Regions from separate parts of the Homo sapiens genome. Here region 2 is linked to region 1. A link means that fine-mapping ties the variant in region 1 to the expression of a gene that starts in the linked region. Tissue or cell type: whole blood. Region 1 holds a variant in brackets; the other region holds the start of a gene. All regions are shown on one strand. Distances are from middle to middle.

Region 1 (8,113 bases):
ATGGTAGCCACATAGGAACAGTAGGAGCCATCCTCAATGGGGCAGGCATTATGTCAATCACTTGGGGAGGAGGCCAGACCCTCAGAAAGGAAACCAGAACTCAGGAGACCTGGGTCTTAGGCTGGAAAAGTAACTTCTGCCTCTCTCGAAGATCTGGACTTAGAAGTGTCCAGATGATTTTTTGGGTGAGGAAAAGCTAGTTCAGGAGCCATACAGGGATACGGACAAGGAGGTAACTCTGTGGCGACTATCTGAAGATATATGAAGTATGGCTGGTAGGTCAGATGATCAAATTACAGATCATTTCGCTTTTGTTCCTCCAGTCTTTTCAGTCTAGTTTGATTTTCATCTCATTTCAGATTTGCCATGGGCCATGAAAGAAACTGTGATTTTCCCTATTTGAGCTTGATGTTTATTGGGTTCTAGCCCACCTAAACCCCCTACTCAGACACTCTTCTCCCTCCCAGTGGGGTCAGTGAAGCTAGGACAAGGGCCATTAGCAATAACTTCCAAAGGGAAGGTAAAGTTGGGGACACAAGGTTCCCACAACCTTCCCTTCCTTGGCAATCTTGTGGTTCCCACTGTTAATTTTATCACAAATGTTTGCAGGTGTTCCAACTGGCACTTAATCATATACTATACTTCAATGTTTAGTATGTTTAATATAATCTTATTTTTTCCGTTAGGTTATAAACTCCCTTAAGGCAGTGATTTTGTCATGTATTATAAAAATCACCCATAGCATCTTGCACAATGATCTCTAAGTGAATATTCAGTAAATATAGTAACTGTTTATCTAAAATGTTATATTAACCTGGACCTTGGAAATACCCTAAGATCTTATCAAAACAGCATTGTATTTCCCTATTCTGTTAGCTCTTTTGGAGCTATAGATTTCTGTATGTGATTAAAATTGGAAATCACTTTGTTTTTAACAAAACCAGAGCATTCCTTGTAGTATAATTAAATACCTGTGTTCTCAATTCCCCAAAATCATACAGCAGGGGGCCATCTCTAGTACTCACCCCTGAAAGGTAGCTGACACAAAACTTAACTAAGGCATCTTGCTACACAGGAAAGAGCATTTTAATTTGCTTCTTGAGAAACTAAATTTCTGGGAATTTGTGATAATAGCTGGATGTGGGAAACTAGAAAGGCCTATAAACATGAGGCCCTTAAAACAAGGCATCCCAAAAATCCAGGAGGTGGCATGTACACAGTTCTCAGTTAACCATCCTAACAGCTGAGTAGGGGCACAGAAAATTCAAAATGTGATCCCAAACCTACTTCCTGATGAATAATAATGCTACTCTAAGAGCAGTTCTTTCCCCAGTAGGTTGTAAAGTAGTATTAAAATGTACTTTGATTTCCTAAACCTGATGATGAGAATTGTGGCTCCTTTTAACACTCGAGAGGATAACATTTCTGTTGGATAAATAAGAACCTCTTCTGTGTACACAAAGAATCTTCTGTCAATAGAGTACAGAGCATATTTCTTTTCTCATGAGGTAGAAAGCAGCAGCTTTGACTCAGCGTGGAACCAGGCAGTGCAGACCCAGAGCAGCTTCCAGCTCTCAAGCGGGTGCAGGGTGCAGAGTGCAGAGTGAGGGTGATGAGAGATGAGGCCAGCACCCAGCCAGTTAAGTCTCTTGTTTGAATTAGTTCCAATTCCAAAGAACATTACAGACAAAACAAACTTTTCAGCTCTTAGGAGGTGACTGCACTAACTTGACAAAAATGCAACTCATTAATTGAATTCTGATTACATAGGTATTGTGGCAATTTGCTTTGTATGCATTATCTCATTTCATCTTCTCAACCATCTCATGTTTAGTAAGATGAGGTGAGTGAGATCCTTCATTATGGAGGTATAGAATCTGGGGCTTAAACTCAGTTTTGTCTGACTCCAAGCCCCTGTTCTCCAGTCTTGTTATTTGTTCTGCGTTTGAGGAATGTACTCAATGGCAGGGATAATCTTAGCACCCAAGACAGCCTCAGACTATCTGTTGAGGATGGTGTTGTGATACTGTCTGGGCTGAAAGTTCAGCCAGACAAAAGCAGTGATGAACTTGTCACAAGTGGGGAAATTCACCCACCAAATGATTCTGAAACATACTGAGTATTGTTGAAGTCTACATCTGAACGGCCAGGACTATTTATTGACTTAGTGTGTGTTAAATGGGCACCACTTACCCTGTGCCTCACTGCCATTGCTTGGTATTTCTGCCTTCCAGAGGCAGCCCTTTGGATTCATCATATAGATAAGTTCTGTCATATCGATGTCTTTCTCTTCTCAGTTGTCAGAAGATTATAAGGAATAGAGGAGTTTTCCTGACATTATGATAACTGGATCCTGACTTGTTAATCACACCTCCTTTGTGTGGGGCCTCAAAGGAAATACCACAAATAAGGAATCTAGCAACATATGAGGCAAAGTTCACCTTAGTCATAGTTGGGCATAAATCTTATAACCTATACTGGAGCTCTGGTAAAAGACTGACTTGAAGCCTGAGGCTTATCACTGAGGCTTAAGCAAGGCCTTATCATCTATTCCTCATGTCCTGCCTCTCAAAATGGAAAGTTTGGGACCAATAGGCCCTGGTAAACTTGCCTGGCCTGTTGGTCCCCCAGGGATGACCGGGCTTCACTTTGAGCATACCTACACATGCACAGGATCATGGAAACTAGCAATACCCCACCCATACCCTCTCAGCACTTAACCCTCTTGGTGTATACCAAAGGATCCTATGGCACACACCCAGGATTCTCTGCGTGAGGGTTTATGCTCAGCGGGGCCTGCTGCAAATGTTGGGTAGTTAACACCCCTGAAACAGCCCTAGCTGTTGGGAGTTGAAGGATAAATACCCCAGCTCCTTCATTGCCCAGGTGGAATGAGTCTGGAGCATATTCTGCACTTTCTCCTAGAGTTCCATCAGAGGTGAAACTCAGTTGCCTAGAGTGGCTGACCTGCTTGATAATTGTAACAGGGAGAATGATATTCCCCAAGAGGGTCACATCCTAATTCTTGGCACCTGTGAAGTTGTGGGAGCACATGTGGGAAAAGAGGCTTTGCAGATGTAATTAAAGTTATATATTTTAAGATAGGGAGAGTAGCCTAGATTATCCAGGTGGGCCCAGTCTAATTATATGGGCCCTAAAAACAGAACTTTCTCTATTTGGAGAAATGCAGCAGATGAGATGCAGCAGCAGGAGAAGTCCAGAGATGTTTGAAGCAGGAGAAGGAGTTGATGCAACTTTGCTAGAGCTGAGATATAAGGACCGGTGTTCGAGGATCAGAGAAAGGTTTTAGGAGCTACAAGTGATCTGCAGCTGATAGCCAGAAAGGAAATGGGACCTCAGTTTTATAGCCACAAGAAACTGGATTCTGCCAACCATCTGAATGAGCTTCTGCTCCAGGGAGGAGATTCTCTCCCAGGACCTCTAGACAGGAGTCCAGACCTGAAAACCCCTTGGTTTTGGTGTTGTGGAATGCTTGGCAGAGAGCCAGCTCAGCCATGCTGTGCCCAGACCTCTGATCTACAAAAACTATGGGATAAAAAGATGTGTGTTGTTTAAAGCCCCTAAGTTTGTGGTAACTTGCTATGACTTCAACAGAACATGAATACCATAAGGCATACACTCTTGGTCTGCTCCCTTCCCATCCCCCTACTGGTGTTTTCTGGGCTCCCCTCCCCACAAAAACCACTTGCGCTCACATCCCAGATGGAACTGCATCAAGGCCATCAAGAATGTGCACCACTCAGTTCTCTAGCTGTAGGCCTTTGGTATCTGCCACAGCGTTAGAGCTGAGGACATGCTTCTTTTGGGAGCTCACGACCAATGACCAAGCTCAGTGGAGCACACAGTCTGACCATTCTGCCCAGCTCAGGACTCCTCTACAGGTAACTTTGTGCTGATGTTCCATTGTGCTGTCCCAGGCTGTTGAGAGCTGCACCGCAGTTTCCTACTACTCACCTTTTCCCTTCTCTCCTTTAGAACATGAGGCCCATATTGCTATCTGAAGGCTTTGTCTACTCCTGATCCCCTTTATCTTTCATAGATGTTACCCCCTGTAAATCTCCTGTGCTTCTAATTCCATCATGACATCTGCTTCCCTAAGGACCAAACTGACAAACCCACCAAATAACACATGCTAAGCCTTGTCCAAGAAGGTGGACCAACCTCATCACAGTGAAATCAATCAGATATATAAGAGGGAGTGGAGAGTGGCCACATGCCTGTGAAAGTATAGTAATATCACCCATTAAAAACTATGGTCCAGGCTGGGCATGGTGGCTCATGCTTGTAATCCTGGCAATTTGGGAAGCCAAGGCAGGTGGATAGCTTGAGCCCAGGAGTTTGAGGCCAGCCTGGGCAACATGGCGAAACCCTGTCTCTACAATTAAAAAAAAAATTAGCCAGGATTGCAAGACCAGCCTGGGCAATATGGTGAAACACATCTCTATAAAAACAAACAAAAAAAAAAAATCCAGGCGTGGTGGCACATGCCTGTAGGCCCAGCTAGTCAGGAGGCTACGGTGGGAGGATCTCTTGAGCTGAGGAGTTCAAGGCTGCAATGAGCCAAGATTGCATCATTGGACTCCAGCCCAGCCTACAGAGCAAGACCCTGTCTGAAAAAAAGAACTGTGGTTCAATAAATGATCTGAAAAAAAGGTGATAATAATTAAATTCTAATGACATCAGAGATTATGGCAATTTGTATGCATTATCTCATTTTATCTTCTCAAGCATCTCATGTTTAGTAAGATGAAGTCAGCAGAAACTTACATTAAGGATCTGGAATCTAACGGTTCTGATGAATAATTCTACAGGAAAGCAAGAAGAGATAAGCTTGTGGTTGAGGGTACCCAGCTGGAGATGGAGAAACAATACTAAAATCCTCTGCCTTACTTGTCTGTTTCTTCAGGGGCATGAGTTCCTACATAGTTTAGCAGTGGGAGCCTGTGAGGCTGCCAAAGTCACAAAAGTTCAGGA[A/G]AAAGTGAAGAAGGCTGTGGCAGGATGATAAGATATACTACAGTGTCAACACAGAGATGATGCATGGCTGGCCAAGAAATTCTTCCTAGAAAAATTAGCTGTGTAGTCCTACTTCTTTAGGCAGAAGACTCATCAGAAGACCATATTCAAAGGGCAAGTCTGAACCAAAAGCTGATGCTGCAAAAGGCAAAATCTCAAACCTAGCAAACATAACTCCAGATATGAGAATTTGAGTTTCAAAGGCACTCCACTATTTGAAAGCTAGTTACATTATTGGCTTTAATGCTGGTAATAAAATTTATATCATAGCAAAACAAGCAGCTGCCTTAATTAAAAATAGAGAAACTTCAATGTAAGTTGTATCTGAAGAGTGATTTAAAGAAATTACTTATAGATGTATCTATGTGTTGTTGTATCCACCGATGGGGGCATTTATTTTACTAAACCAAGCAAATTAAAATGTTCTTGATAGCTTTCATCCCAAGAGTTTCCTTTTATATAAGGAAACTCAAATACAGACCACTGTTAGTATCACATTCAAGGTTCTTGTGTCCAGTGTGTTTATACTCAAATCTTTCTCTAAAGAGTGTAAAAACTGCAATAGCTGCTGAGGGCATTACTGCTTATGAAAATCTCTTGCACAGCAGAGGTCGGGCTTGGAGATGTCAAACCCTGAGTTATGTTCCATGGTTATTTAACCTTTAGGATCACTTATCATTGATTACTTGCTTCATGTAGATGTGTACTTAGTCTCTGTGATCTCCCCACAAAGTCAAAATTTGTACTGTTGACCTTTTTTTGTAACCCCCAACTCCTAATCCAGTTTATTGATGTGCATAGAATAAGACACAGGGTCTATTGATGTATGGGGCTTCATAGCATAGAAGTGAGTATAAAAGTGTTCTGATGGGAATCAATCACTTGTCCTAGACAGAACACTTGACCATTTTCAGTCATGTTGCAACATACCTCTTAGAATTCACACTAGGGCACAAATCAGAGTTTTTAGCACAAAGGGACCTACATCCTTCAACATCAGTTCTGATGTAGCAATTGCATTTGGAGGTATCCCTTAAGGATACAGTGTCTGGCCAAGACAGCATAGCTCAGTGGATGGCCCCATGGATTTTGTTTATGTTTGGTTATTGCTACAATACTTCTTAGCTGTGTGACTCTGGACCAATTTCTAAATTTTCCAAAGCCTCTATTTTCTTATTAGTGAAGTGGGGAAATAGCAGTACTTACCTCATAGGGCTATTGGGAGGATAAGACAGTAAATATAAAATACTCAGTGATGCCTGACACATCAGAGTTCAAAACCAGATTGAAAAATATAGTATTTAATAATGTCTTAGAAATGGAAATGGAATGGAAATGTCTCTCTAGCCTCTTGCCTAGCAGAGAGGAGGCACTCAATAAGTCCTATGTATTTTAATTAGGATAGGCTAAAGTGTTATGACAGATTGACTCAAGATATAATTGACTCAAACTCAGTAGAAGTTTATTTTTTCTTTACAAAACAGCCCAAAATGGATGTCACACATCACTAAAGGGGACTCTGCTCCACACAACCATTCAGGGAACCAAAGTAAAAGTGGTAGTGCCATCTTTAACTTGTAATGTTCTGGATGTCATCATCCCTGTAAGCTGGAGTGATGAAGGCAACTTCCTGAGACGGTTTTTGTGGGCCATATCTGAAAGAGATACACCACTTCCCCTCACATTCCATCAGAGAGAACTTAGTTTCATGGCCATACTCAATTGCAATGGAGATAGGGAAATATAATTAGGTTGGGGAGGATGAATTTTGGTAGGCAGTTAACAACCAACAGTTTCTACTACTGCTATCTTTTCTGGAACAATAAGCTCAACATTGATTCATTTATAATATTAGATACAACTTTTCTTTAATTTAAAAACCTTAAAAACCTAGCAAGTTAGAGTCCAAATGTTCCCGTAAATCTATAGGTAAGAGTATACTGGTCATGTAGTGTTTTTAGTCTAACATTTTATTTTATGCATAGCAGAACTCCTAACAGGAATCAGCCACAGAAGGCATGCAAATTATATGCTACAACTTTAACAATTTATTCAGACATTTATTAAAACAATCGATATTTATTGAATATTTAGATTTCTGTAGGAACTGTGCATTTCTGTGGGTGATAGAAAAAAAAAAACAGATCTAGTCCCCAAAGAGCATGCATTTTGATAGTGGCATGATGAGATGTCCACAAGTTATCATAAAATTGGAAAATGAAATTATTATGGCAAAAGAGCTAACGAAGTGCTAGAAACTGATTAAAAACCCAATTTTGATTAGGCCAGAGCTACATTTTAATTTTCTTGGCCTTTTGAAGTTTTCAAAATGGAGCCTCTATTACATCCAGACATAAGTTTCTCTCCTGGTCTTCAGCTGATGAGGGCATCATGAAGTCCTGCAACTCCTCTCCCTCAACCGTCACACACATACAATTTTTAATGTTTTACTTCCAAGAGGGAAAACTTTTCAATGACATCTTTCATCAAAATTAATGTTAAATATTTTGGGGGGTTTTGGTGGATGTCATTTCTAAGCAAATTATTAGAACAGCAAAAACAGTTTATATCATAAGTTTTAAAGTCCTTTATACATTTTTTTGCATTAGAGATATTATACAATTCTATCTATTTACAAAACACTTTACTTTTCAAAAATATCCTGTCAAGAGGTTTTGAAAATATCTATTTCACCAATATCTATTTAAAGATAAGTCTGGAAATAAGATAATTTCAAAATTAATTACACGGATATCTCATTGAATCCTTTTTTTAAAAAACTAAAGACAAACTAATTTTCTTTTTACAGAAGTAAAATATAAGCACACTTTGATTAAAATTCTGCTGTTAGTGATTATTAAAAGAAGATATTACTAGAACCAAAATTAAGCTTTCTGAAAAATGTCACTGCCTATTTCCAAAAAGGTTTATTTTATTTCTAATAAAAAGAAGTTTGAACATGCTGTCCCCATTCTTTTTTATAAGGCATTTCTACCCTGGAATTCTTTAGGCACAGAATGTGTGTTTTCTGCTTTGAACAAGTGGGGGATGACTTTCTAGATTTTGTGGGTGCATCAGC
Region 2 (8,113 bases), 54 kb after region 1:
CCAAAGAGAAGAGTCACTGCCCGGAAGCCTGTTGTAGTTAATGCACACAGCGTTCCCTTCTTTGTCCTCCAAGTCCCCTGAAACCAGCAGAGTGTGAAGTTTAGAGTTGAGGCTTGATTACACCAAACTCAAGTGTGAGCAGAAACAAAGACTGCGGGCAGAGAAGGCAGAAAGGGCAGAGGTGGCAAACACTAACTCTGGGTTGGCTGACAGTTGATTAAGACAGAGTCACAAGGGAGAAAAATTGCTTTTATTTGCTATGAGGATGACCAGTGCCCCACCTGGATGGACCCCAATCAAATATCCTAGAGTTGACTCTTACTTTTTGTCAGCTCCACAATAAACTGTGTTCTCCCTGTAATGACAGGCTAGATGGATTATTTTAAGGGTTTATGTACTCTTATGGAAATGGAAACAAAAGGACAAATGCAGGGTCTTTCTCCCTTGCTTGAACTCTTACTTGGTTACTTTTCTCCTCCCCTACCTCCACATCATTTTTTTTTTTTTTTGGTCTGTTTTGTTTGGAAGCCTTGTCTTACCAATTTCCAACCATTCTCACTTTCTTCAGCAATCTGTCTCTTTGTAGCCTTGCACTCAATGAGTGCTATAATTGGAAGAACTCTGTTAACTTGAAAGGTAAATAATGGTAACATTATTTTAATTTGTGTTTTTCTGATGACTCATGAGTTGAACATGGTTATAGTTTTGATCACTTCTTTCTTTCCTAGAGTATTACCTATTCCTATAATTGTCTTTTTTTGGAGTATTTCTATTTTTTCTTAACAGAGTTTAGTGCTTAGAATCATAGGCTCTCTAGCACCGATTTTCCGAGCATCATGCTGACTCTGTCACTTCTATGGGACACCAATGGGCAAGTTGCAGAATGACTGTGCCTCAGTTCTCATCTTTAAAATGGGTAATAGTAGATATGACTATGTCTCAGAGTAGTTGTGAGGAGTAATGAGATAAAATATATTAAGTGCTCACAACACTACCTGGCACATAGTATATGCTCCATAAATGTTATCTATTATTATTAGCTATTTAAATATTAAGGATATTATTTCCTTGTGGATCACTTTTTAAAAAATATCCTTCTTCATTTAATACTTGCCTCTTCCTTTTATCCAAGGTTTTAATCTTCAAATGTGTTAAACTTTAGGTGGCTGGATTTGTTGATCTTTAACTTTGCATTTTCCTTCAATGCTTTTGTGAGCAGAGAGTCTCCCTCAATGGCAATTTGTGAAAGAATAGATTTTCAGACGCTATTTCTATTTTTCTTTTCCTATTTATGATTTGTCAATTTCCTGCCATGTGTTTCAGTCCTCTTCATTCTTTTTTCCCTCATTTCCTTTATTTTTATTTTTGATTGTGACAGAATATATGTAACATATAATTTACCAGCTTAATCATTTTAAGTCAGGAGTGTAAAGTACATTCACACTGGTGTGCAATCAAAATCCAGAACTCATTTCATCCTGCAAAGCTGAAACTCTACCCCTCTTAAACAACAACCCCTCATTCCAACCTCCTCTCAGCCCCACTGGCAAGTGCCTTTCTACTTTCTGTCTCTACAAATTTAACTACTCTAAATACCTCTTATAAAGCGAATCATACAATATTTGTGTTTTCATGACTGGCTTATTTCACTTAGCACAGTCTCCTCAAGGTTTATACGTATGTAGCATGCATTATAATTTCATTTTTTTAAGGCTGAATAATATTTCATTGTATATGTAGATGTATAGACTACCTTTTGTTTATCCATTTTCTCATCAATTGGGCACTTGGGTTATTTTTACCTTTTGACTAATGTGATTAATGCTTCTATGAGCATATTTGTACAAACATCTCTATTAGACACTACTTTAAATTATTTTAGTTATACACCCAGAAACAGAATTGCTGGATCATATGGTAATTTTATTTTTAATTTTCTGAGAAACTGCCATACTGTTTTCCATAGTGGCTATATCATTTTACTTTCCCATCAACAGTGCACAAAAGTTCCAATTTCTCCACATCCTCACCAACACTGTTATTCAAATGTAATGGCAAAATAGAAGCATTTTTCGCACACAAAAAGAATAATACAATTTATTGTCCACATAACTGAAGTAAAAGAACTATTAAAGTTTGTGCTTTAGCAATAAGACAGTGAACTCAGGATGAAGGTGAGGGTCTAAGAATTTCTGAGTTGAACTACAGTTTTAGAACATGTATTGGTAAATTTACTTTAACATTAATCATAAAAATATAAATACCCCTTTTTAAAAGGGAAAAACTAGAACTATGAGCAATAACAAGATTTTGTGGGAAGTGTTCAATGGATAGTTAAAGCATTCTATGGAAATTCTCAGGATAACAAAAGAGATAATGAGTAGCAACAGTCCTGTTGGAAAAATTTACATTTGGTAAAATTTATAAATGTAGCATCTATCTGTAAGTCTGTTCTTTTTATAGTTGAATATATCCGTTCATATGGACATACCATATTTTGCTTCTCCATTAACAAGTTGATAGACATTTCAGTAGTCTCCAAATTTTGGCTATTATGAATGATGCTGTTACGAACATTCATGCACAAGTCTTTGTCTGGACACAGATTCTCATTTTTCTTGAGTATAGATCTAAGAGTGAAATTACTGGGTTATATAGTAAATAATAATTTTTGAGTAAACGTAGCATTTCACATTCCCACCAGCAATGCATGAGAGTTCCAGTTCTTACATTCTCGTCAGTCCTTGTTATTATTAGTCTTTGTTTAGAGTGGGTTCTAAGTATATCTCTTTGTTGTTTTAATGTTAAATACACCCTTTCGAACTAGTAAAATCTTTGAGAAACTGTGACTCCTCCCTAGCTCTCTGGACTCCCAAAGCTTTAATCCACTGTTTAGTGTTCTTTTAACAATTATGATGTGGCTATAATTTATTCATTGATCAATTCATTCATTGATTCATTAACTCAACAGTGATAACTGAACATCTGCAATAGGTCAAGCGATATTCCAGGAATAAAAAACTGAATTAAATTGATTCCTGCTCTCAAGGACTTGACTAACCTAATTGGAAACATGGACCTAGACAGTAAGAATTAAAATACAATGTGGTAGATGCAAATAAAGTACAAAATGTTATTCAAGTTCTGATCTAGTCAAATCTTAATATGTCAAGGGCTTTCAGTTGCCATTTTCCTTGTCATGAGAACATCTTTCTAACATGCTCAGGGTTGATTTCTAATGGTAAGAGAATGAGGTTGGAATGAGATAGGAGCTGACTTCCAGTCAACACTGTGGGCTCCACATATCACTTTTCTTTAGTCCATTATCAGTGCTATTATCTAGTTCAGAACTTGATATGCTCAAAACACCCTAGTTTCTGTTCTTGCATCTTAAAGTAGAAAGATCAGATGCTATTTCCATTAGTTGTCCATCTAAGGATACCATATAGCTATTCCCTTGATAGATTTAGTTTCACCACCTTACATTGAATTTTTCTTAAGAAGGAAGCAACTAAAATAAACAAGAAGTTCAATCCTGAGATTCTGAGGGCAATGGCATTTGCAAGCAATTTGTGGCAGGTAAGAGAGCAGTCCATAAAGTACTTCCTCCTAGGATGTTCTTGTGATTTCTGCTCTAATATATCTCCCACCCCCAAAATGCATGCAAGTGCCTACACACACACACACACACACACACACTGCCACCACCTTCTCCACTTCCCTAAACCCAATGAATGACTAACTTGCACAACATTCATCCACAGATTTTAAATATGAATACAAAGAAGGGATTCTAGTGATTGATACTTTTCCTGACCTTTAGATAACAGTTAACTAAACCATTTTAAGCTGATGTTGACATAGCCTATTAAATATCTCTACAGCAGAAATTCTATAATCTGCATTGTTCAGAAGTCCTGAAGTCTATGATTTAATGTAAAAATAGACCAGAAATCTGAAGAATTTATACAATTTATATTTATAACACAGTTGACTTAGTTGAATGTGTCAGAACACAATATGTGTACATATAAAATTTTTGGTGAAGTATGCCATAAAATTATAATTTGTTCATTAATTTTACCAGTTCACAAACATTTCTTAGGTATGGGTAATATGTCAGGCTATATGCTAGTTATTGTGGATACATGGATAAGAAAAAGACAATCCTCATCTTAAAGGAACAAACTCATTGGAGATAGACCTGTAAACAAAGAATTACCACACACAGTAATAAACATAGGGGAAAAAGAAAAATTAATCATCAGGATAGGAATGAAGGAGTTTTAGGGAAGACTTCCAAAGAAATAGGTTTTTGAACTGTGTCTTAAATATTTGCTACTCACAAAGTGTGGTTTTCAAACTGGGGGTATTCGCCTTTTCCAGAAGCCTGTTAGAACTTCAGAATCTCAGATCCCATTCAGGACATACCAAATCAGGATCTCTATTTTAATAAGATCTCTGGTCATTTGTATGACATTAAATTTTAAGAAGGTTTGCTTTAAAGGATGGTGAAGAATTCCCAAGTAGGTTTGAAGGAAAGGAAAAATATTCTCCAGAAGTGGGAACGATACTTGTAAAGGGACTATCTTGGACAAGATTCTCCTCAGAAGCACACTCTGAGGCAAAGAGTTGAGTACAGCAGTTTATTTGGGAGGAAACACTAGTAGGGGAGTGGGAAGTGAGATAAGGAAGGGAAGAATGACTGTAAAGAGTGTCTTTTCTGGCAGATTACTTCTGTGAGCAACTGGGTCTCTCAGTTCTTTGGGAGCACCCTGGGAAACAGTGTGGCTATGACTTGGAGCTGCTCACCAGTTCCAGTCATTCTGTGGTTGAGAGCTGCTCCCTATGGATGTTAATTCTTCTCTATTTTAGATTTTCCACAGGTGTGGGCCCCATTAGCTCTGGCCACCTGAGAAAGCCCTCAGGCAAAGAGTCGCAGGTGAAAGCCAGCAGTTAGAGGTTCACAGAAATGGTGAGTGCTGAACGGATATGGGTGGGTATCAATGATGGCTGCTATAGAGATCAAGGCATGAAACGGGACTACAAGGTATACTCAAGGAATTGCTGGTTGTCTAGCATTCTGGGAGTGTAGGGAATAAGTGTGGAAGTATCAGGATCTAAGGGTGTCTAGATACATAACAGCCAAATCATGAAGGGCCGTGTGAGGAAGACATGCTAAGGAAGTTGGAACTTATTTTGCGGGCCACTAAATATTTAAAAAATAGAGTGTCATAGTAGAAATTTCATCTTTGGAAAGATTATTTTGCAGTCTAGAGGGTGGGACTTCAGTGAGACTGAAGACAGAGAGGCCAGTTAAGAACTCTATCATCTTGGATACAGCTTTTGTAGTTACGGTATCACCATTAGCTGACTGGATTAATTAATATCTCTATTGAGCTTCTGCTGTGTTTGCAGCATTTTGCAGGTAGCTGTGTGAGGTATATCAGGTATTTTCTTTAATTAATGAAAATAATCTGTTTAAAGTCTATTCAATATATTGGTGCTATTGCTGTATGTTAGTAAGTGTTGGTGTGTTTAAATTTTACATGATGTGTATATATCACAGGTCTTGAGTACGCTAGCTGATACCTAGTATCATTCTCTAAAAAACGACCAATAGTATTTTTCTTTTTCCTGAGAGCACAGGATGAAATTTAAGCTAATAATTTTCTTTTATACCAAAAAATTACCTTTATACAAATTTTTTAATACCAAAAGTTCCCATTCATTGGGAACTATATGTAGGTCCCCAGTGAATGAATATATTAATTATTCACCTTGCCCATGGACACTAGTCACATTTTATTTGCGACCATTGCCACATCTCATAGAATAGGAATTTCTTGATTATTGCTATATTCACTCATATCAAAGTGTTGCCTTCCATTTCTCTTAGCTAAGATAGGCAGAAAACTTTTTACTAAGCCAGATAAATAATGGCTCATGTACTAATCCTTGTGAAATTAAACAAAAAAATCTGTGAAATTAAAAAAAATTATGAAATTAAAAAAAAATGGAAAGAAATTCCTGCCATGTCACTTACTATCCCTAATCTTAATTTCAGTGTTGTATAGATGTGTGCTTCTAAAATGTCGTGTTTTTCACACTTCGTTTCAATCCTTGAACTCTATTGAAAAGCTTCATTATATATTCTCCATTACTGATCTCGTTATAAAAATTTGATGTTGCTTAAAATAACCATTTGCTTTATTAAGCCAAGCTTTGTTTACTTCTGTATCTGTTGAGATTAACCTCCCATCACCATCCTTATACATGTACCCTTTGATTATTCTCAGTATTGATATCTTGGTCTTCCAAGAGCTGTAAGTTTTTAATTCACAAAAGGAAGGAGGTTCTAGGATTCAACTAATGTGATGACTAGATTTGTATATGGTATTAAAGTATTAAAGGAGAGAATTTCTTCGCCCATAGCTTATCATTTATTTGAATGCAGAGAAAATTTACTGGGGAGATTCAAAATGATAAATTTGTCTATGTGGAATTCAATAAGCAAAATGCTGAAATAGAGTCTAAATCTTCCATCATCACTAAAGCTGTTTGATAAGAAATTTATCTCCTCTTGTCTGCTTTAGCTTGATCTAAGTTAAGTACTAATGAATCATGACCCAGTCTGTGTTCCTTTGTCCTCACATTTTACTTGCTGTGGCAAGGATTCAAAAGTGATTGATTAATGTCAAATAGGTTTTCGCTCTCTATTGGAAATCTTGCTGCAGTAACACATGCTTTTTTTGTTTTAAATTTATATAAGGCAACTTTCTCTATGGTGGGTACCGTAGAAGACTAGAAGTTTCTATTATAACACATTCATCATTTTGAAAAATGAAGGTGGCTGGCTGCAGTGGCTCACGCCTGTAATCCCAGCACTTTGGGAGGCCGAGGCGGGTGGATCACCTGAGGTCAGGAGTTCGAGACCAGCCTGGACAACATGGTGAAACCCTGTCTCTACTAAAAATACAAAATTAGCTGGGTGTGGTGGCGGGTGCCTGTAATCCCAGCTACTTGGGAGGCTGAGGCAGGAGAATAGCTTGCACCCAGGAGGCGAAGGTTGCAGTGAGTCGAGATCATGCCACGGCACTCTAGCCTGGACAACAGAACGAGACTCCGTCTCAAAAAAAAAAAAAAAAAGTGTGAAGCTATCTGAAGATTGACTCAATTGACCTGATGCAATGAGGAAGTCCACTAGAGGATTTAAGCAATAGGCCAAGTTTTCAATCAAATCTTAAAATAATTAAGTGACCTTAAAATTCTTGACTAAATTTCTGAGTGATCACTTGTGTATTCTCATCAAATGAGGTAGTTAAGAGACCTGAGGAAGAGAATACTTTTGGATCTGAGTTTCTGTCTGTTAAGTAAAAATGGATTTGTTGTATAATCTGAGTAAGCTGTTTACCATCTCAAGAGTCTCCATTAAGAAAAAAAATGTTAGATAGTGGACAACAATGCTCTCTTTATGAGGATTACATGGTGTAAAGTGACTGTCATGTGTCAAAGCTTCATAAATTGGGGAAATAGATAAATAACTGTGGATAGTTTTGCCTTTTTGTAAACAGATACTGATAAAAAGACCTAGAATAAAGGCTCTCTCTTTTAATAATTTCTGAATTTCTTGTAACTTTCCACTGCCTTTCACTCAAACTCCCCATTACTCCAGTTATGCAGCATTTATGCTGGGGGCTTTATGGGCTGCCATTGCTGCTGTGCATGCTTTTCCATTTAATTTTAAAGTTCCATTGTTCTAGGGCATTAGGATTGTTATCAGATTTCTTAAGGTCAAGGTCAGTGAGTCAAATATACTGGAGCATAAAACATTTTTTTCATCCTTTTAAAAGTCACATTTATTTTGAAAAGACCAGGAAACCCACCCATCTTTACCTCTCCTTAATGTTGATCCAATCTGAGCTTTAAATTTTTTACTTTTTGCAGCATGATTTGTAACATAGATGGCTAGCCTTAAATTTGGCCAAAAAAAAAAAAAAAAAGGGTTTCTTTTTTGCTTTTGCTGAAGCGAGCCCTTCTGGTCATCTATAGGTCAGCTCTTGTTGGTGAACTGATGACAGTGGAGGCACCTGCACTTTGGAAATAAACATTA

The links. PIP is the estimated chance that this variant, and not a neighbour inherited with it, causes the effect.
Region 2: LINC00534 starts here. The variant in region 1 is fine-mapped to the expression of LINC00534 in whole blood (TOPMed, PIP above 0.99). The same link has a PIP of 0.9 or more in blood mononuclear cells.

The regions. Positions count from the first base shown.
Region 1 is chr8:90,163,153-90,171,265 of GRCh38, forward strand. No RefSeq gene overlaps it. Among named protein-coding and RNA genes, the nearest start is that of LINC00534, 54 kb to the right of the region's middle. RefSeq lists cis regulatory regions at 4,795-5,163, 5,010-5,027 and an enhancer at 4,946-5,090. The variant A/G (reference allele first, on the strand shown) is at 4,996.
Region 2 is chr8:90,216,772-90,224,884 of GRCh38, forward strand. It overlaps LINC00534 (long intergenic non-protein coding RNA 534), which reads left to right and starts at 4,717. Exons shown (of 4, transcript NR_051989.1): 1 at 4,717-4,975.